3 linked regions of the Homo sapiens genome follow. The protein of the gene in region 3 binds, or shares a complex with, the protein of the main gene of each other region. Each region holds a gene or a part of one and is shown on either strand. Other genes may lie near its edges.

What was found. The genes of interacting proteins can lie anywhere in the genome.
Region 1: APOO (region 3) and IMMT share a complex: the UniProt entries of both Homo sapiens proteins name them as parts of the mitochondrial contact site and cristae organizing system (MICOS) complex.
Region 2: APOO (region 3) and CHCHD6 share a complex: the UniProt entries of both Homo sapiens proteins name them as parts of the mitochondrial contact site and cristae organizing system (MICOS) complex.

What each region holds. Positions count from the first base shown.
Region 1 is NC_000002.12:86,143,438-86,150,462, forward strand, and holds the end of IMMT (MICOS complex subunit MIC60), read right to left. Parts: intron 4,397-7,025; coding exon 4,265-4,396; intron 2,761-4,264; coding exon 2,631-2,760; coding exon of another isoform or gene 2,599-2,630; exon of another isoform or gene 2,123-2,598; intron 2,051-2,122; coding exon of another isoform or gene 1,933-2,050; intron 1,445-1,932; coding exon 831-1,444; 3' UTR 499-830; downstream 1-498. UniProt on the Homo sapiens protein: Component of the MICOS complex, a large protein complex of the mitochondrial inner membrane that plays crucial roles in the maintenance of crista junctions, inner membrane architecture, and formation of contact sites to the outer membrane.
Region 2 is NC_000003.12:126,699,782-126,707,264, reverse strand, and holds the start of CHCHD6 (MICOS complex subunit MIC25), read right to left. Parts: upstream 3,026-7,483; 5' UTR 2,953-3,025; coding exon 2,866-2,952; intron 1-2,865. UniProt on the Homo sapiens protein: Component of the MICOS complex, a large protein complex of the mitochondrial inner membrane that plays crucial roles in the maintenance of crista junctions, inner membrane architecture, and formation of contact sites to the outer membrane.
Region 3 is NC_000023.11:23,834,916-23,841,940, forward strand, and holds part of APOO (MICOS complex subunit MIC26 precursor), read right to left. Parts: intron 5,463-7,025; coding exon 5,427-5,462; 3' UTR 5,398-5,426; intron 1-5,397. UniProt on the Homo sapiens protein: Component of the MICOS complex, a large protein complex of the mitochondrial inner membrane that plays crucial roles in the maintenance of crista junctions, inner membrane architecture, and formation of contact sites to the outer membrane.

The DNA of each region.
Region 1 (7,025 bases), on a different chromosome or scaffold from region 3:
TTTTGAGTCTGAGCAGCAGGAATCAATTCACCAAAACCTTCAAAGGCAAAAAGCAGGCTGTGGACTTCTGGTGACGCAATTCACAGCCTGGAAACTGTGAGCTAGAAGTTCCTACTTCTGCTGTTGTTGTTTCTCAAGGATATTTTCTGTACATACAACAAACTAGAATTTTTTTTTTTTGAGACGGAGTTTTGCTCTTGTTGCCCAGGCTGGAGTGCGATGGTGCGATCCTGACTCACTGCAACCTCCACCTCCCAGGTTCAAGCGATTCTCCTGCCTCAGCCTCCCGAGTAGCTGGGATTACAGGCATTCGCCACCACGCCCAGCTTAATTTTGTATTTTTAGTAGAGATGGGTTTCTCCATGTTGGTCAGGCTGGTCTCGAACTCCCAACCTCAGGTGATCCACCCGCCTCAGCCTCCCAAAGTGCTGGGATTACAGGCGTGAGCTACTGCACCTGGCCAGAACTGTACTTTTTGAAAAGGGATAAGATACTCAGTTTTCATCTTGTTGCTTTATTCAGTTTGCTCCGAGGGCAAAATCAACAGTAGTAGAGATCACAAACATTATTTTGATTGGCCTCACAAGCCTCATCAGTAAAACCTGAAAAAACAGAAAATGTTACACAAGTTGCAAAGAAAGCACTCCTGGCGTTCACTGACATGATAGCAAATGGAAAGAATATAAATGCAACAGGTGTTAACATTTAGAACAGTACTTGTAAACCTGCTCATTTCTAGACAAGTCCGGGACTCTCGCTGCGAACCCTTCATCTATCACTGCTGATTTCCTTTGACATGAAATATGACTTTATGAAAATCTTCCTAAACCTCACTCTGGCTGCACCTGAGTGGTTCCTATTCCTACGGCGCTGGCATATGCTGTCAGGATTTCCACTATCTGTTTCGTTTCTAGGGTCATTCGGGCTTCCTTCAGCCAGTCCTGTGCCACTCGTCTGGATTCCCCCTTCAGCTGATTGACAAACTTTGCTGCTAGCTCCAGATCACCATGCTCAATGCAATAGGAAGCATATGACAGTAATTTAAATGTGTTTATATCCTCAGGGCAGAGCTCTGGGGGCGGCTTCAGTTGCTGAGGTGGGAATAGGAGCAGGGACTGTAGGTAGGAGAGGAAGTACTGGTACAAGCTATTTCTGGTTTCATCAATCATTGCTACCCTTCGGGCCAGTTTTTGAACAGCATAGAAACGGGCTCTAAGGGTCTCTTCACTGTACACCCCACGGGTCAGGGACTCTGGAGGGATAGCTGCGGTTAAAGCTTGGGTGAATTCATTATCAGAACAGTTGGCTTTGATGGCCTCAACTGCACTACCCAGCGGGATAGTAGGTGTTTCTGCAGATGAGGTCTTCATGCTGTACTTTAATGCCTCCACTGAAAGCCAGAGTTGGTGGGCTTTTCTGGCTTCCTCTTCAGCAACTGCATGGCCTACAAAGAAAAAAAGGCAAAGCCAAACATTTTTCTCTCCATCTGACAACATACATCCACAGAACTGATGCACATTCAACAAGCTACATCTACACATGTGCAAGATGAGGCCAGAGAGACTTTCTTACAACCCCACCCCCACCACTTATTTCTGGTGTATTTTCCTAGCTGGCCTCTTCATATCAAAGTCAGAAGTCATTCACATCTGCATGATATCTAATCCACATATTTTTACCTTTACTAGTTGAGAAAGAAACATATTATTTAAATTAGGCTAAGACTTAACGCTAAGGCCATGAGAAATTTTCTGCAAAGAAATGGGAGACTTCAGGGCCAGGCACAATGGCTCATGCCTGTAATCCCAGCAATTTGGGAGGCCGAGGTGGGTGGATCACTTGTGGTCAGGAGTTCAGGACTAGCCTGGCCAACATGGTGAAACCCTGTGTCTACTAAAAATACAAAACCTAGCCAGGCGTGGTGGCACGCACCTGTATTCCCAGCTACTCAGGAGTCTGAGGCAGGAGAATCGCTTGAACCCAGGAGGCGGAGGCTGCAGTGAGTCGATATCACACCACTGCACTCTACCCTGGGCGACAGAGCAAGACTCTGTCTCAAAAAAAAAAAAAAAAAAAAAAAAGAAATGGGAGACTTCAAACGAACTTAACAGACTACTGGATCTTGAAATTCCATGAGTATTGAATTTATTTTTATTGTTATGTGACAAAAAAAGATTCCATAACATCCTAAAAAAACCCATTTTATTAATACCCTCATTGTCATGACATTTCTCTTTCAATGTGGCACATGGAGGCCTCAGCATAAATACTGTCCATTTGGTAGTTGGACTCGGCAAATCACCACCTCCAGATAACCCACCAAGTCTGTGGAAGGCAAGCATGGGACCACACTGACCCCTAGCCCTTACCACCCAGGCACATGCGACATAGCCAAAGGATACTGGGTAAATAGCCTTGTAAATGGTGATTTTGTGTTTGTCATACAAGGTATAAATTTCTAGTTATATAGATTTTGCCATTACTTTTAATGGCAAAAACTGCAATTAAGTAGAGTGATTAGTATTTTTATGTCCTGATGTCAGTACATGTACCCCATTTTCCCTATAAAATTATTTTGATAAATTATGCTGAGGAAAATTATCTGTAAGATAAACATAGCTTATGCTTACTCTGAACAGCCTGTTCGATTCCTCTGAGTCTGGCATAGGCAGTATTTATATCCAGAGTAAAGTTGTCAACTTGCTCTTGACTGAGACGACGAAATTGTAATTCTTGTTCAGAGAGTTTCTCAGACAGGTTCTGAAATAAAACAGAAATAGTTCCAGAAAAAAGTGATACTCAATGCATGTCATGTAACTGTGTAATCTTCCAGCAACTACTTGCTGAAGCAAAGAGGGCCTTAGAGTTGTCACGAAATTCCTACATTTTGTGTAAAGTTTCAAAAATGTCCTGACTCATATTTGATGTATATAATATATTTTTTTTTTTTTTGAGATGGAATCTTGCTTTATTGCCAGGTTGGAGTGCAGTGGCACAATCTTGGCTCACTGCAACCTCCGCCTCCCAGATTCAAGTGATTCTCCTGCCTCAGCCTCCCAAGTAGCTGGGATTACAGGCATGCATCACCATGCCAATTATTGTATTTTTAGTAGAGATGGGTTTCACCATGTTGGCCAGGATGGTCTCGATCTCTTAACCTCGTGATCCGCCCACCTCGGCCTCCCAAAGTGCTGGGATTACAGGCGTGAGCCACCGTGCCCGGCCGATGTATATAATTCTTTACAGGTTTACTGATGGAACCTAATATTAGAGGAGGCATACCAAGAGAAGAGAGAAGGCTGTTAAAGTCAGAAACAAACTGCCAACTGTATTTTATTTTTGAGACAGAATCTTGCTCTGTCATCCAGGCTGGAGTGCAGTGGCACAACCTCAGCTCACTGCAACCTCCACCTCCCAGATTCAAACGATTCTCATGCCTCAGCCTCCGGAGTGGCTGGGATTACATGCATGCACCACCATGCCCAGGTAATTTTTGTATTTTTAATAGAGACAGGGTTTCGCCATGTTGGGCAGGCTGGTCTTGAACTCTTGTCCTCAAGCGATCCACCCGCCTCAGCCTCCCAAATTGCTGGGATTATAGGTGTTAGCCACTGTGCTCAGCCACAAATTGTCAGCTTTAGAAAGTAAATTATCTGTACTGCAAACCTAAACATAATAATTAGATTAAATTATATTCTAATATCTTGTATTTAAGAGCTTATACATTAATTTTTCTCAGAAAAATATCCAAATAGAATTTAAAATACCTTTTCATACTGACATACATCGCGATTCTCTGGAAGATTTTACTTAGAAAACCTCAATATCTTCTTGCAAGACAAAGTAACAAGTTAATATTACTGTAAATGATTTCTTGAATAGAAACTATGATTACAGGCATCCTGATAATTTACTGGGATTTCAAAACTTCTCTGGGAAATTACCTCAGTTATAAAAATCTAAGCAGTACCATGCCATCTATAGGAGGAAGATACACATGTCAAATATTACTGTCTGCATTCCTGAAATCCCCTTTACCAACTCTCCTTAAAGCTCTGAAGATTCCAAATGACTAGAATATATATTTTAAAAACACATCTGATCATGAACACACAGGTACACCATTATGTAAAAAGAAGCAGTTTTGTAGACATACAAGGAGATTTCCAAATCTTCGACATCCTCAGAGTACATTAAAAGGAAAGGAGAGTCTCTTAATCCTGTCAGGAAGAGGGGTGTGGCTGAAGGGAGTCCAGGTCCTCACCTGCTCAAATTCAGACTTCAATTCCTGTTCTTGTACCCTAAGGACATCTCGCAAGTGATCAGTGTGGGCAGCTGCCTGTCGGCGAAGCTGGGTTCTCATTTCATTTTCCATGGCATCTCTGACTTCTTCTATCTGTGAAACCAAACATAGTAGTTATTAGTTTTCAATTCTCCACATATACTTTTAGGAAAACAGAAAGACCACTATCAACCATGACAACAGCAGCTTCCATATCCTGAACGCCTCTAATGTGCCAGGCATGTGTACACTTCTACTTCTCATGTGAAACGGAAAACTAAACCCTGGAAGGTGATTCAAACAAGATCACACAGCTGTGGCAAAAACCAGATTTCAAACAAAGGTCTCTCTCACCCCCAAACTTGTGGTTTTTCCACATCACCAGGCTGCCTCTCATATAAAACACTGCCATTTCCTGAATCACATGCTCCTCTGAGAAATAACTAAATCCAGGATATGAAAAAAAGTAACTATATACTTGGAATCAAGCGTAGCTTTACTACAACCATCTGTGTGACCTTGGGGAAATGATTTATCTTCTCAAATCTCCACTTTCTCATTTGTGAGTAATAATGCCTACTTTGAAGAATCATTAAGAAAATTAGTTGGCCGGGCGTGGTGGCTCACACCTGTAATCCCAGCACTTTGGGAGGCTGAGGCAGGTGGCTCATGAGGTCAGGAGATTGAGACTATCCTGACTAAAATGGTGAAACCCCATCTCTACTAAAAATACAAAAAAAAAATTAGCCGGGTGTGGTGGCGGGTGCCTGTAGTCCCAGCTACTCGGGAGGCTGAGGCAGGAGAATGGCGTGAACCGAGGAGGCAGAGCTTGCCGTGAGCCAAGATTGCGCTGCTGCACTCCAGCCTGGGCGACAGAGCAAGACTCCATCTCAAAAAGAAAAAAGAAAAGAAAATTAGTAAGTATCTGGTAGTTATTGACATAGACTTGACATAGACTTCTAAACAAAGAAAACTGCTTATTTTTAAATGAATTTAAATTCAACATGGGCCAAAAAAAACCAAAAAATATACCTTGCCTAACAAATAGCCATAGGTCACTTTACAAATTACTTAACACTGATTACCTGAAATCCAGAACTTATTTTTTCTCAGAAACAATATAATAAATCAATGAATCCATTCAGTCAGTGCATAAGTATTTATGAAGTGCTACTAGCCCTGTGTGCCAGGCAGTGCCTACTATCTGTACGGATCCAATGGTGCTTAGGGCAGACGAACTTCTTGCTCTCACAGTGTATATCTCAATGGAGGCAGCAGACAGTAAACAAAAAAGACATCTGAGATTGTGATACATATTTCTACATATGACTGAGCAGGCAAGGACCTGTTGTGAAGCATCAACACCCCTTCAACCTCCTTTTCCCCCACCTTACATTTAAAATAAACAGGGCAACATAACAGAAAGTAATACAGAGACTCTACTTTGGACTGAAGGGATAGGAAATCTCAGTCTTGCTAACAAAGTGACATCTAGGCTTAAAACTTAAGCTTAGAGCTCAAGGTTTAAACAGAGAGGATAGAACAATGTACTAGGCAGAGAAAACATAAAGGTCCCAAGACAAAAGATATAGTCAAGGTACAGACAAAAAATACCAGGGTGCCTGGAGCAGTGAAATGGCTCATGGCATGCAGTGATCAAGAAGCCTTTTGGGTACTGGTTAAGAATTTGGAATTATATTAAATGAAATGGGTAGTCCATGGAGGATTTCCAGCAGTGTAGTGTCTGATTCGACTATGTTTTATTTGCCTGCGTAAATAGACACAGAAAGAAGGGTATGAAGAAAGGGCAAATTGGCTGGGCATGGTGGCTCACACCTGTAATCCCAGCACTTTGGTGTTTAAATTCCTTGGGGAAGGCCGGGCATGGTACCTCATGCCTGTAATTCTGGCGCCGTGGGAGGCCAAGGCAGGTGGATCACTTGAGGTCAGGAGTTCGAGACCAGCCTGGCCAACATGGCAAAACCCCGTCTCTACTAAAAATACAAAAATTAGCCACATGTGGTGGCATGCACCTGTAAGTCTAGCTACTCAGGAGGCTGAGAGGCACAAGAATCACTTGAACCTGGGAGGCAGAGGTTGCAATGAGCCAAGATTGCACTACTGCACTCTACCCTGGGCCACAAAGACAGACTCTGTCTCAAAAAAAAAAAAAAAAAAAGAAAGAAAAAGAAAAAATAGTGGAAGCTGTTAAGATGACAGCTTGGGCTAAGGTGGTAGTAATGGAGTGGACAGATTTGGGATTTATGTTGGATGCAAAACTGGTAGGATCTGTGGGGCAACTGAATATGAGTTGATGGAGGAACAACAAAGCATGATTTGGGCTGGAATAGCTGAGCAGATTGTTCAACTCAGTTTATTTAGAGAGAAACAAGTTGAGGGGCTGGAAGACAGGTTGGAGAGAATAAATAAATCTGTTTGGAGCATGATAAGCATGAAATGACTACTGAAAATCAAGCTGGAGATACCAGGTAGGCTGCTGGATAGGAACCTGAAGCCAAGGCAGAGGTCAGAGCTGGAGATAGACATTTATCAGGTATAGATGGTATTTAAACTTCCAAGTCACGGGACTCAACAAGAACACTTAGAGACAGTTCAGATGGAGAAAACGTTTCAGAACTAATGCCAGGTATGCCACCATTTGAGAGGCTGAGCAGAAAAGGAGGTTAAGGAGTGGCCAGCAAGGTAAGAGAAAGGCCAGAAGAGTATGGTGTCAGGGAGCCTA
Region 2 (7,483 bases), on a different chromosome or scaffold from region 3:
TTTAAGACGGAGTCTCTGTCACCCAGGCTGGAGGACACTGGCATAATCTCGGCTCACTGCAACCTCCCCCTCCTGGGTTCAAGGATTCTCCTACCTCAGCCTCCCAAGTAGCTGGGTGTACAGGTGTGTGCCACCATGCCCAGCTAACTTTTGTATTTTTGGTAGAGGCAGGGTTTCACCATGTTGGCCAGACTGGTCTTTAACTCCTGACCTCAGGTGATCTGCCCACTTCGGCCTCCCAAAGTGCTGAAATTACAGGCATGAGCCACCACTACCAGCCACTAACACTTAATCTTACAGGGACGAGAACACTTTCTAAGACCAGGCCTCAGGAATTAAATACAAATGGTCATTAAGAATATTCAACTTGCTCTAAAGAAGCTGGGGCAGATCTTCTTTGGCATCTGCTTCTCATTAAATGAACTGATTTGTTCCCTTTGGCAACTGTTTTGTTGATCTGGCAATCTTTTTCACTCACTTGCCTAAAGACAAGGTGAATTCCTCAACCCTCAAGTAACTCTGCTAACAGAAAAAGCCTCTACACCAAAACATCCTTTCTTCATACCATCACCTCCTTTCTTCAGTTTTCCTCTTTCAAACACAAGCAGAAGGAAGGACGTGGCTCTCATAACGTGGGGCTGTGCACCTTACTGTGCACCTCTGGACAAGTCATTTATCCTCTCTGATTAGTTTGCCCAGCTGGAAAAGAAAGCAGTCAGTCACCAAAGTTCCTTCCAGTTTTAAAACTAAGTGGGGCACTATCATCCCTGTCAGGACAGGTATGGGTATTGTCACAAAATTTTCAGGCTGCCTTGCATACATCATGGGGGGGAATTGCAGAAGTGAGAAAAAGTTGCTTTTTGCACCGAAAAGATCTTAATTAAAGTCCCAGAAGTTACTCAGGTTAACACCTTGGGCAAATTCCTTAACTCCTTTAAGCTCAATTCTCCATCTTTAAATACAGAGAATTTATATGTTGCAGAAGTATTTAAGAGAACTAGAAATGAAATGTACCTGTCTTATATAATACTCAAAAAACATGAGGTTTCCAATCAACTTGAAAGAAGGCACCCCCAAAGGCACTCCCCTGAACCTCTGAGGACTCCAACTTAACTTTCCAACATTCCCCAAAACAGGAGACCAAATCACAAGGGTGAGAGCACCCAAACAGAGCCAAGCTTATCTTTCTAAATTCCAATTCAGGTTCCTCCCTCTCGGCCTTCCAACACAAGCCATCTCCTCCCCCATTTAATCCTTGCCACGAGTGAGGTCCACAAAACTATACAACGCCTAGCAAGCACCAAATGTGCCAAGTACTCTGCTAGGCTAAGAAGAGAGGCCTCCACAAAGCACTCTCTCTGTGCGTTTCCTTAACACTTTCACAGACATCATCTTATCCTAGGCAGTACCTAGGATACATACACACCCAATTTTTTTTTTAATGTGGCCATTGAGGCTCAAAAGAGTTTTTTACCCAAGGTCACACAGCTAATGAGCACCTGCCAGAACTCCTGAAGTCTGTCTTTCTAAGCCACCTCCCTAATTCCTCCTTAATTAACTAATTCATCTACACCCAGCTCTGTGCGTTTCATTTAATCCTAGTCCCTTTTACTGGGTTCATTCATCTCTCCACAGTTACTTACAAAGCACCTGCAGGTGTAGACACAGGTGGAGGAAGAGGCCGAGCACAGCAACATGCCCTGGAATTGGCTTGTTTCAATCCCAGCTCTCCCACTTACTATTTACATGATCTTGGATCAGTTCGTTCACCTCTCAGTGCCTCACTTCTCCTTAATCTACAATAATGGGCTAAATAGGGCTGTTGAAAATTAAATCAGTTAACTTATAAAGGGTTTAGTCCAACGCATGGCCCCTACACTGCAATAAGAGCTGCTTTTATTCTTCTGGGTTCTGGGGACAGTCTTCAATCAGACAGGAACCTTAGCCTCAAAAAGCTTACACTCTAGCAGTAAACGCAATAAACAAGTAAACAATTATCAACAGAAGCGATCACTGTGATGAGTGCTATGAAAATAATAAATGTTGGACGCGGGGTGGGAGGTTACTTCAGATTGGGTGGTCAGGGAAGGATTCTCTGGTGATATCTGAATTACAACAAGAATTACAAGAAACAGCGGGATTTAAGGAGAGCTGAAGGAGAGAGAACAGCCGGCGCACAGACCCTGAGCTGAGCCAGCGGCACCCTCCAGGAAAACACGGCGGTCCTGAGGCTGGGGACGAGGTGCGGGTGCCACGCGAGGGAAATGGCACGAGATGCAGTCCCAGAGGGATGCAGTCCCCAGAGGTCGACGGGCAGCGGCCAGCTTTGGAACCAGGGAAGGCATCATCCAAGCGCGCTAGGAACCCACTGGAGGGTTTCAGGCAAGGAAGGGGATCAGATCTGAGCTATGGTTCTTCCTGCGCCCCGCAGATGTGCTGTGGAGAACAGGCCGGCGGGGAAGAGCTGAGTCCCCAGGCAAAGCCCAGGTGGGAGACACCGCGTACCCAGAACGAGATGCGCGCACCTGAGGGGCCACGGGCTGGGAGGCCGGGCGCAAATTCAAGAAACGTAAAAACTAAGCCGACCGGAGCCAGGACGTGGCCAGGGCGTCCCTCGTGTCCCAGGGGCCTCGCACCTGTACAGTTCTTCACTCCTCCTTCCCTGAAGCCCATGTCGCGAAGCTCCAAGGCTGCCAGCCTCGGGCTCGCGTCTCGGCTCAGCCTCTTCCTGGCCTGAGCCCCCGGAGTCTCCCAAGCCCCACGCCCCTCACGCGTGGAAAGAGCCCCGGCCCTGCGCTCCGCCCCGCACCTCCCCCCCGCGCCCGCGGCCTCCACGCCCGCCCCGGCCCAGGCGGCGCCGCTCACCCGGACACCCTGCAGCACCCGGACCCGCTCCTCCTCGTCCACTCCGAAGGACACCCTGCGGCCCTCGCTGCTCTCCGTGCTCCCCATGGCGAGATGCCGCAGGGCCGGCAGCCACCAGACCCGAGACCCGGCTCCAGAGCAACCGGGCCAACAACGCTTTCCAGGACTCGCGCGGCCGCGGCACACGCCAACAAAGCCACGTCCTATTGGCCGACGCCAGAGGCTTCACCAATCGGGTGGCGCTGAGTCGCGGTGCCTTGTGGGGATTGCAGTCCTTCCGTCTGGAGGGGTGGGGGCGTGGCGGTCTGTGCCTGCTAGAGTGCGTTAGGCTGAGGCCGAAGATGTGTACCGGCGGAGGCCCTGGAGTGGAGGGCTGGGTGCAGGACAGGGTCACGTTCTCGCTTTGGGAGCTCCCCCTTGAGGGAGAGCCAAGGGTGATGTTCTGAGGCCAGGAGACGCCGAGACGGCCAAGGCGCTCATCTGGAGGCGAATTTCTGAGGGTTCACTGCTCCATTCATTCAGCAAACACGTGTAGAGCAGCACGGGCTGAGCGCCAGACGAGCAGGGACCTGGCCCTGGCATTACAGCGCCCCTCAAGACAGCGAGTGTCCTGCCCTTGAGAGGTTTACAGTGCAAGGGGAAAACAAGTGAAAAGCCAAACACGCACGCAAGGAAACTGACTGTAATACACGGAAAACTGCATGGCGATGCCACTAGTAAAATGAACAGAAGGAGGCCTCTTTTAATTTCAGTGGCCAGAGCAACCTCTGAGGAAGAAGCTTTGAACTGAGCCGGCGGGAGAGTAGGATTTATGTAGAAAAAGGTAGGGGAAGAGGTTTCCTGGGAGTCTCAGGCAGGAAAAGAGAAAGAGGGGTCATCCCATGGCTGGAAAGTGAGAAGAGGGCAGAGGAGTGGTGAGGACCCAAATCATGTCGGGTCTTGTGAGGCAGGGTCTGAGTGTGGGTTTTATTCTAAACGCCCCGGGAGGACAGGGAATGGTCCTAAGCCGTTAGGAGGCATTGCCCAAGGAGTGTACATACCATGTGTGGAGTGCAGTGTGCCAGGCATTGTGTGTAGGCTTCTTACACAGGACCCTATGTGTAAGGGAGCACACAGACGGTTGCCAGTCATAGACACTGCTACCTTCAAATAAGCCCCTTTTTGTTCCTCTGAGTTGCTGAATGGCTTTGATTTGCAAAAGTGCGCCTGAAGCCGAGCTGAGGAAAACTAGATGGCTACATGAAATAGCCAGAAAATATTTGGAGCTCCTATTGGCAACCTGGAAAGAAAGGGGTGAGGAGGAGAGAATGATTGAGAGAGAGCAGTAAGGCTCTGAGATTGAGAATAGCTCAGGGTGAAGAAGCTAGTAAACATCCCAGAGCTGGTGTGACGATGGAATCTTTAGGAACAAAGGTGTCTGCTAGTTTCATTCAAAATACTTCATTGGCGCACCCCACTCCATCACCTCTGTCGTCCATTTCTTCCCTATAAGCAGAGCCTGCGTAGGGGATTCTGGTGCAAGGAGTTTCCTGGGGGAGCACCTCAGGAGAAAGGAAGTTAGGGAGACAGGCTAAGAGGGGTGGGGACCGGGGGCCGCGGGGAAAACTGAGTAAAGATGTGGTCAGACCTGGTCCTGGGCTTTCCTTTGTCTCTTTTCCTTGGAGGTTTATGATTACTAATTCAATCTCCTTACTCGTTATTGGTCTGTTCAGATTTTCTGTTTCTTCAAGACTCAGTTTGGATAGATGGTATGTTTCTGGGAATTCGTCCATTTCTCCTAAATTATCCAGTTTCTTGGTGTATAATTGTTCATAGTAGTTGATTATGATCTTTTGTATTTCTGTGATATCAGTTGTAATGTCTCCTCTTTCATTTATACTTTTGTTTATGTGAATTACCTTTTTTCTTGGTTAGTCTAGCTAAGGTTTGTTAATTTTGTTGATCTTTACTGTTGATCTTTTCTGTTGTTTTTCTAGTTTCTATTTCTGCTCTCATCTTTTTTATTTCCTTCAGTCTGCTGACTTTGGGGCTTAGTTTGTTCCTCTTCTAGTTCCTTGAGATATAAAATTAGGTTGTTTGATGTCTTTCTTTTTTCTTAATGTAGGTATTTTTCGCTATAAACTTCCCTCTTAAAAATGTTTCTATTGCATCCTATAAGTTGTGGTACCTTGTGTTTCCATTTTCATTTGTCTCAAGATACTTGTTTATTCCCCTTTTGATTTATTCTTTGGCTCATTGGCTGTTCAGGAATGTGTTGTTTAATTTCCGCACATGTGTGAATTTTCCAAAGTTCTTCCTATTACTGATTTCTGACAACAAACTATTCAAAAAGAAATTAAGAAAATGATCCCACTTACAATAACACCAAAAAGAATAAAATATGAATAAATTTAACCAAGGAGGTGAAAGAAAGATGCACACAAAAAATTGCACACTAAAAATTATAAGACACTGTTGAAAGATACTATAGGAGACATAAATAAGTAGAAAGATAGCCTGTGTTTATAGATCAGAAGAATTAATATTGTTAAAATGGCTTTACTACCCAAAGTAATCTACACATTCAATGTCATCATTATCAAAATTCTAATGACATTTTTCACATAAATAGAAAAAACAATTCTAACATTTCATATGGAACCACAAAAGACCCCAAATCATCAAAGCAATCTTGAGAAAGAAGCAGAAAGCTGAAGGCATCATACTCCCTGATTTCAAACTATATTACAAAGCTGTAGTAATCAAAAGAGTATGGTACTGGCATAAAAATAGATACATAGATCAATGCAGAAAAATAGAGAGCCCATGCATATATGGTCTACTAATGTTTGATAATGGTGCCGAGAATATACACACTATGGAGAAAGGAAAGTCTCTTCAATAATTGGAGCTGGAAATACGGGATATCCACATTCAAAAGAAGGAAATTGGACCCTTGTATTACACCACATAAAAAATCCATTCAAAATGAATTGAAGACTTAAATGTGAGATCTGAAACCCCAAAACTCCTAGAAGAAAACATAGGTGGAAAGCTTCTTATCATTGGTCTTGATGATAATTTTTTTGGCTATAACACCAAAAGCACAAACAACAAAAGTAAAAATAAACGAATGGTATGACATCAAACTAAAAAAGCTTCTCCACATAAGAGGAAACAAGCAGCAAACTGAAAAGGCAACCTACAGACTGGGAGAAAATATTTGGGCACCATATATCTGATAAGTGCTTAATATCCAAATATACTCTATAAGGAACTCACACAACTCAATAGCAAAAATAAATACCCAATTTAAAAATGGGCAAAGGACTTGAATAGACATTTTTCTGAAGAAGACATGTGAATAGCTAACAGGCATATGAAGAGCGCTCAACACCACTAATCATCAGAGAAATGCAAATTAAAACCATGGTGAGATATCACCTTACACCTGTGAGAATCAGTATTGTAATAAAGACAAGAGAAGTGTTGGTGAGGATGTAGAGAAAAGAGAACCCTGCACACTGCTGGTGGGAATATAAATTTGTAGAGCCATTATGGGAGAGAGTATGGCAACTCCCCCAAAAGTCAATACAATCTAATAATCCTATTTCTGTATAGTTAACTTTAGCCTAAAGCTGCTTCCTTGTAAGTTCAGCCTAAAGGTTGATCCATACATAGTGAACTGTAATCTAACTGGATGTGTAAACAGACTGTAACCTACTCTTATAACAAGTAGCCAAGTCTCAGCCAATCAGAAGACATACTACTCACAGGTGGCCAACTGTTCGGTGTTCAAATAAGTCTGTAACCCAGCTGTAACCAATCTGGCTATTTCTGTATTTCACTTCCATTTTATTTATGTCATTTTCCTTTTCCTGTCCCTAAATCCTCTCCAACCCCACTGGCAGCACTGAAGTCTCTTTGAAGCTATTCTGATTTGGGGGGCTCCCTGATTTGTAACTTGTCCTTTTCTCAAACTCTTTAATCAGTCTCAAGTTTTTCCTTTAACAGTATATATCTAAAGGAAATGAAATCTTGAAAATATATCTGCTCCCCCATGTCCATTGTAGTATTATTCAAAATACCCAAAATATGGAAACAACCTGTGTCCATCAACAGATGAGCAGATAAAATGTTTTACACACACATATATATACATACACACACACACACACACGCGTGTTTTATCCAGCCATAAAAAAGGAAATCCTGCCATTTGTGACAACATGGACGAACCTGGAGGACATTTTGCTAAGTGAAATAAGCCAGGCACAGAAAGACAAATACTGTATGATCTCACTTATATGTGGAATCTAAAAAAGTTGAACTCATAGAAGCAGAATAGAACATTGGTTACCAGGGATTAGGAAGTGGGGGCATGGGGAAATGGTCAAAGGGTACAAACTTTAGTTATAAGATGAACAAGTTCTGGCCAGGCACAGTGGCTCACGCCTGTAATCCCAGCACTTTGAGAGACTGAGGCAGGCAGATCATTTGAGGTCAGGGGTTTGAGATCAGCCTGACCAACATGGTGAAACCCCATCTCTACTAAAAATACAAAAAATAATTAGCCGGGCATGGTGGCACATGCCTGTAATCCCAATTACTTGGAAGGCTGAGCAGAAGAATCGCTTGA
Region 3 (7,025 bases):
TTTCACCATGTTGGCCAGGCTGGTCTCGAACTCCTGACCTAAAGTGATCTGCTTGCCTCAGCTTCCCAAAGTGCTGGGATTACAGCCGTGAGCCACCACGCCTGGCTTTTTTTCATAATTTGTAATGAATATACTCAGCAATTAGAGATTTTTTTTTTTTTTTGAGACGGAGTTTCACTCTTGTTGCCCAGGCTGGAGTACAGTGGCGTCCTCTCGGTTCACCGCAACCTCCATCTCCCGGGTTCAAGCAATTCTCCTGCCTCAGCCTCCTGAGTAGCTGGGATTACAGGCAGGCGCCACCACGCCCGGCTAATTTTTTGTATTTTTAGTAGAGATGTGGTTTCACCATGTTGGGCAGGCTGGTCTCGAACTCCTGACCTGAGGTGATTCACCCGCCTCAGCCTCCCAAAGTGCTGGGATTACAGGTATGAGCCACCGTGCCCGGCACAATTGGAGATTTCTAAATATTTTAGAGGCCAGTGACTATTCACTTGATCTTTTAATATACAACCAAAAATTCTTAAACATGTAAACTACTAGCTTATTTTTTCTATCTCAGTTTATTAATCTGCTTTTGTCTTCCCCAGGAATTTGATAGATTTATTGCATTGTTAAAAACTAAAAACTGGAAACAACCTATGTTGGTAAGGATTAAGTAGATCATGGTAGTCCATACTAGGAAATCATTAAGCAACTAGAGAAGGAATGCGTAGCTCTATTAAGTACTGACAGGGAAATACTTACACAATATGTTATGTAAAACAAGTTCATTCATTCATCAGCATAGATTAATATAGTACTGTCTATGGCAAAAAAAAAAAATGAACCTAAGTCTAATTAAGCCTTCGGATCCAACTATAAGTTTATGGGAAATATAGAGAAGAAAGAAACCAAGAGATAAACAGAATGATACTAAATGGATACATTCGGCCACAGCCAGAACATGAGAAATTCTTTTTTTCCCCTCCCAGCTCAATCCTTGTAGAAAACAGGAATTCTAAAGGACAAATAAGCCAGGTTTTTCAACAGATAAATAGCAAGGGACAATGAGGGAGCGGAAACTATTACAGTTCTAAGAGACCTATCAGTCAAACACAACAGGCAGATCTTGTTTGGATCCTGGTTCAAACGAACCAACTGTAAAAAGTTATTCATGAAACAACCAGGAAAATGTGTACATTGAACTGGATATTAGATGATGTTAAGGAATTAGTGCAATTTCTTTCTTTCTTTGAGACGGAGTCTCTCTCTGTTGCCCAGGCTGGGAGTGTGCAGTGGCACGATCTTGGCTCACTGCAACCTCTACCTCCCGGGTTCAAGCAATTCTCCTGCCTCAGCCTCCTGAGTAGTTTGAACTACAGGCATGAGCCACCATGCCCGGCCTTAATTTCCTTTTTTTCTTTTTTCTTTTTTTTTTGAGACAGAGTCTCACTCTGTCACCCAGGCTGGAGTGCAGTGGCGTGATCTCGGCTCACTGCAACCTCCGCCTTTCGGGTTCAAGCGATTCCCCTGCCTCGGCCTCCCGAGTAGCTGGGACTACAGGCGCACGCCACCATGTCTGGCTAATTTTTGTATTTTTAGTAGAGACAGGGTTTCACCATATTGGCCAGGCTAGTCTCAAACTCCTAACCTCATGATCCGCCCACCTCAGCTTCCCAAAGTGCTGGGACCACAGGCGTGAGCCACCACGCCCAGCCCCAGCCTAATTTCTTTTTTTTTTTTTTTTCCCCAAATCAATAGGTCTTTTATTGCATCATTTAAATATCACAAGTAGGTCTTAAGTGTCATCTGGCATCTTCTTTCTGTAGCCAGGTAACTCTTAGATCTTATTCATCAGCCTGCTGAACAGTTCCTTTTTCAGAGACATAGATACCATCCAAAAATTTCCTGATATCCTTGTTTTTAACTGTTGTGGCTTGCTGAATCAAAGCCGCTGAATTTGAAACAAGCTCAATGTCATTTCCTTCAAGGATTAATTCATCTTTCTGGGCTTGAGATACTGAACAAGCAACACCTGGTCTCATCCGAACCCTGCGGATGTATTTTTCACCCAAAAAATTTCGGATTTCAACAAGAGACCCATTCTCCTGGATAACAACGTTGATGGGGAAGTGAGCATACACAGACCTCATCTTGTAACGGAAGCCCAGTGTAACACCCTTGATCATGTTCTGTACATGACTACAAATAGTCCGAACGGTAGCCAGTTCCTTTCTGTTACCCCACCATTTGTCAACCCGGAGCCTCTTTTTTTTCTTTCCAAGAAGGCTGAGTTCTACATTGATGTGATTGAAGTCCCTCCGCAGGGTTCCTCTGGGGCCCTTCACGATAACTGTGCGTCCCTTCAGAGTAATGTCGACATTTTCTGGAATGTCGACAGTCTGATTGCTGAGAATAGTCTTCATTCTCGCAGTAGACGCAGCAAAGAAAGCCTAATTTCTTTATGTATGATAATATAATTACAATTATATGCCTTCAGTAAGTTTTCTGTGCAGCTACTCAGAAGGGTGAAGTGGGAGGATCACCTAAACCCAGGAGTTGAAGTCCAGCCTGGGTAACACAGCAAGATCCCATCCCCCCAGATAAATAACAGTAAAAAGAAAGTTTTCTGTGAACTTGTAAAACAATATGTGGAATATGATCCCATTTTGTCAAAAAACCAAAAACATGCATGTATGCATGAATATATTATAAATGTATAAATAAATTTATTTAATTTATAAATAAATTTTAAATATAAATAAATATATATATTTGTTTTTGAGACAGGGTATCACTCTGTTGCCCAGGTTGGAGTGCAGTGGAGTGATCATGGCTCACTGCAACCTCTTTCTCCCAGGCTCAGGAGATCCTCCCACCTCAGCCTCCAAGTAACTGGGACTACAGGTGTTCGTCATCACACTCAGCTAATTTTTTTAATTTTTTGTAGAGACAGGGTTTCGCCATATTGCCCAGGCTGTTCTCGAACTGCCAGACTCATATAATCCACCTACCTCAGCCTCCCAAAGTGCTAGGAGTACAGGTGTGAGCCACTGCACCCGGCCTATCTATCTATCTATCTATCTATCTATCTATCTATCTATCTATCTATATTTAAAAGTCTGGAATGATATACCAAACTATTAACAAAAATTACCTCTGGAAAAAAGAATAAAGGGGCCAGATGTGGTGGCTCACACCTGTAATCCCAGTACTTTGGGAGGCTGAGGCAGGTGGATCACCTGAGGTCAGGAGTTCGAGACCAGCCTGACCAATATGCTAAAACCCTGTCTCTACTAAAAAATACAAAATTAGCTGGGCATGGTGGTGCATGCCTGTAATCCCAGCTACTTGGGAGGCTGAGGCAGGAGAATGACTTGAACCCGGGAGGCCTCAGAGGCTGCAGTGAGCAAGATTGCTCCACTGCACTCCAGCCTGGGCAACAAGAGTGAAACTCTATCTCAAAAAAAAAAAAAAAAAAAAGAAAGAAAGAAAAAGAAAAGAATAAAGGATAAGACAAGCTTTTTTGTTTTGTTTTTGAGACAGAGTTTCACTCTTTTTGCCCAGGCTAGAGTGCAATGGCACGATCTCGGCTCACTGCAACCTCCGCCTCCTGGGTTCAAGCGATTCTCCTGCCTCAGCCTCCCAAGTAGCTGGGATTACAGGCAACTACCACCATGCCTGGCTTTTTTTTTTTGTATTTTTAGTAGAGACGGGCTTTCACCATGTTGGCCAGGGTGGTCTCGATCTCTCGACCTCGTGATCTGCCCACCTTGGCCTCCCAAAGTGCTGGGATTACAGGCGTGAGCCACCACACCCGGCCAAGACAAGCTTTTAAAACAGTTAGCTAAAAACATTTTTTACAACCAACACGAATCACTTTTATAATTAAAAGCTACACCTCCTCCAATAAAGATCTAAAAACAATAAAGAATGAAGTCAAGGTTGTGTATTTCAGCAAGCTGAACTCTGGTGCAGAGTATCTTTGAAAATTGAAATGGATATTTACCTAATTTCCCTTTATTCTATGTCTTTTTCATTGTCCCTGTACAGAAATATATCCATTCTGGCTGACAGGGATTTAAAAAAAGAGAGAAATATAACCATATTAAAAGTCAAGTCTCTAGAGGACATGTGTCACTCTGTGGCTGCTCACCCTCCAGTCATCCTTCTAATGGCACATCCCATGCATATCTGGCCCCATTCACCAGAGATACTGATTCTGGGGTGCCCTTTGCCTTTTACCAAGCTCCCCGGGTAATAGTTTGTATCTGAGAACATACTGATGTTGGGTTACTGTATGAACAGCTATGCTGTGAAAGAGGAACTGGATTTGTTTTCTGTGACCACTAAGGAGACATATTTTTGCTTAGCAGAGGAAACAGCTTCCAAAAACTCAGAATTGTCCCAGGATGGCTGCCCCATAGGGTGAGTTTCCCATCAGTGCTGGTGTAAAAGAAGGAACATACAGGGTTTCAGGGGAGTCTGCTTGAGGCTGGGGGTTGGGCCAGATAACCACTCTCAAATTCTCAGTTTATGTGACTCTTTGGGTCTCCAAAAATATAAAGAAAGCTTGAGGAAAAAAGACCCTTCAAACTCAGGGTTTTCATAAATTTTAAGTAAGGGCCATGATTTACAATAAATGTAACACCAATTTTCAAAAAATTTTCTGATTATAAAATGCATACTCATTGCAGAAAATTTTTTAAATACAGAAAGTTATAAAGAAGAAAAAAATATAAAAATCATCATGCCACTGAAAGATACACACTTTCTGTCGTATCTCCTGGCTTCATCCCCTCTATAAACATATCACACTACCTTTTTTTCATTTAACAATAATTGTGCACACGTTCCCATGCAATTAAATACTGTAGAAACAGAATAATAATATTCTTCTTTATAGATATACCATAATTAAGCCATTTTCCTGTAGTTGAATATCTAGGTTGCTTCCAAATTCAATTACAGTCTTCTAATTACCAGGAAATCACAAGTGCTATTATACAATTTTTCATATATACACAAACAATATAACTAGTGTTTTGAGCCTCTCTGTAACAGTCATGCATTCCAGTGTTCACTGAGTATTAGATAAATACAAGTGTACTTACTATAATAAAGTGTTGTTTGAAAAAAACCTAAGGAATAATGACACTTTTCAATTGTTTGAAATACATTTGTAGACAAATCCCAACTGTCTGGTTCTAGCTTGTCTAAAAAACCCAGGTAACATTAGTGGAACAAACACAAATAAGTAAGTCACAGCATTTAAGCCCAGAAACTAAAAGATGGAATAAAATATTTTCACATCAAATTGAAACTGTTATAATTAATTAAATTAAATTAATTAAAAACAAGTCATTTCAGCTGGCACTACAATGCTGAAAATAATCACAGAAATTTCTTGTTTTTTACCTGATTAAGATGGCAGAGCATGGAGTTTTCTACTTAGTTCCAGGTGAATTCTTCACATTTCCTGGCTTTTAAAACAAAAGAAAGAGCTTGAATGCAGTTTGAAAAGAAATAGTGCAACTCCTTAGTGTCCTGAGTATTTGGCTGAACATGAACATTAAAAATTATTATGGGGGACAGGGTCAAACCATTTTATTGAGGACTTGGGGGGTTGTTGAAGAAAGGCTGAGGAGGACAATGAGATCCCACATTCTCGCAGTTACCGACCATTAAATATTATTTTACTGCAAAGTGATCCATCTGTCAGTAAATTGAAGAAGTTACTAGGGCTCTCTGAGGGCCCTACTGTAGAGTGACTTGGGCAGAGAGAGCAGGAAATAAAGCTCCATTAATCCTCATTATGCAGATTCAGCCAAACAGTTGATTCTAATTAAAAAATCAATATATCTTCCTTTTATTTCCTGAAATAAAGGTTTTACACCTATGGGAAGGCTTCCTGTAGGTATTTACTCCATGCATTATTCACCATTATCCACCATAGGGGCCAATCCACAAAACATGTTTACTCTGAAAGAAGTTAGACCACACCCATTCTGCCCAGTGGCCCTCCGGGAACATATAATTAGGCCATGTAATCCATAAGAAGCAGTGTAGGAAAAGCTTCTAGTGGGAAAAGTTCACGTGCTAAACTTTTAAGGCCTTACTTTCTTTTCTATACGTTTTTTAGACTTTAATTCTGAAAACACATTAATAGTCAGAGATCAGATGGCAGTCTGAAAAACAGGAGGCTGCAGCTGGGCGGGCCATGGGGGCTAAGATTCTGTTGTATAGACTTGGAGCAGTTTCTCCTGGTGCCCCTCTTTCAGAGTTATTCATGGATGAAGGAAGAGGAAAAGGTGAGAAAGCAGGAGCACGTGACTAACCCTGTCATTTCAGAGCATGGTTTCTAGGCAACTTTGGGGCTCCCTGGAGTGGCTGAGAACTGGTCTATAAGTACTGTTTTATACCCGTTGTCCCAACATAATTAATAGTGTCCCCTTTCACTCTCAAGAGTATCCTGGTTTGCCGGGCATGTTGGTTCACGCCTGTAATCCCAGCACTTTGGGAGGCCGAGGCGGGAGGATCCATTGAGCCTGGGAATTCAAGACCAGCTTGGGCAACATAGAAAAAGAAGTTTAAAAAAAAAAAAAAAAAAAAAAAGAGTATCCTGGTTTTGATGATAAAGTATATGGTCACCACATCCACTTGATGATGGAGTTCTGGGAAACAAGGCCATACGAACTGCTTGGCGGACCAATGATCAACATACAATTCTCAGGTCTACTTGATGCTCTGAACAAGAGTGCTACAGGACTGAGAATCTGTGCCCTTCTCCTCCTCCAGAGCCACTCCCCACCCTGCCTCCTCACATGCATGCACACAAGCGAACACACATACCCATATGTGAACACACACCCACCTACAACCCAGAGGCCTTTTTGCTGTTGCTCGAAATTGACAAACTCCCTACTGGGACAAGACCTTTGCAAAATATACCCCACTGACCGAGACCAGACAATCCCAATTTTTGCCTAGCTAAATGTTATTCATCCTTTACATCAAGGCTTTCTTTGTACCCTGTCCTTCAATTT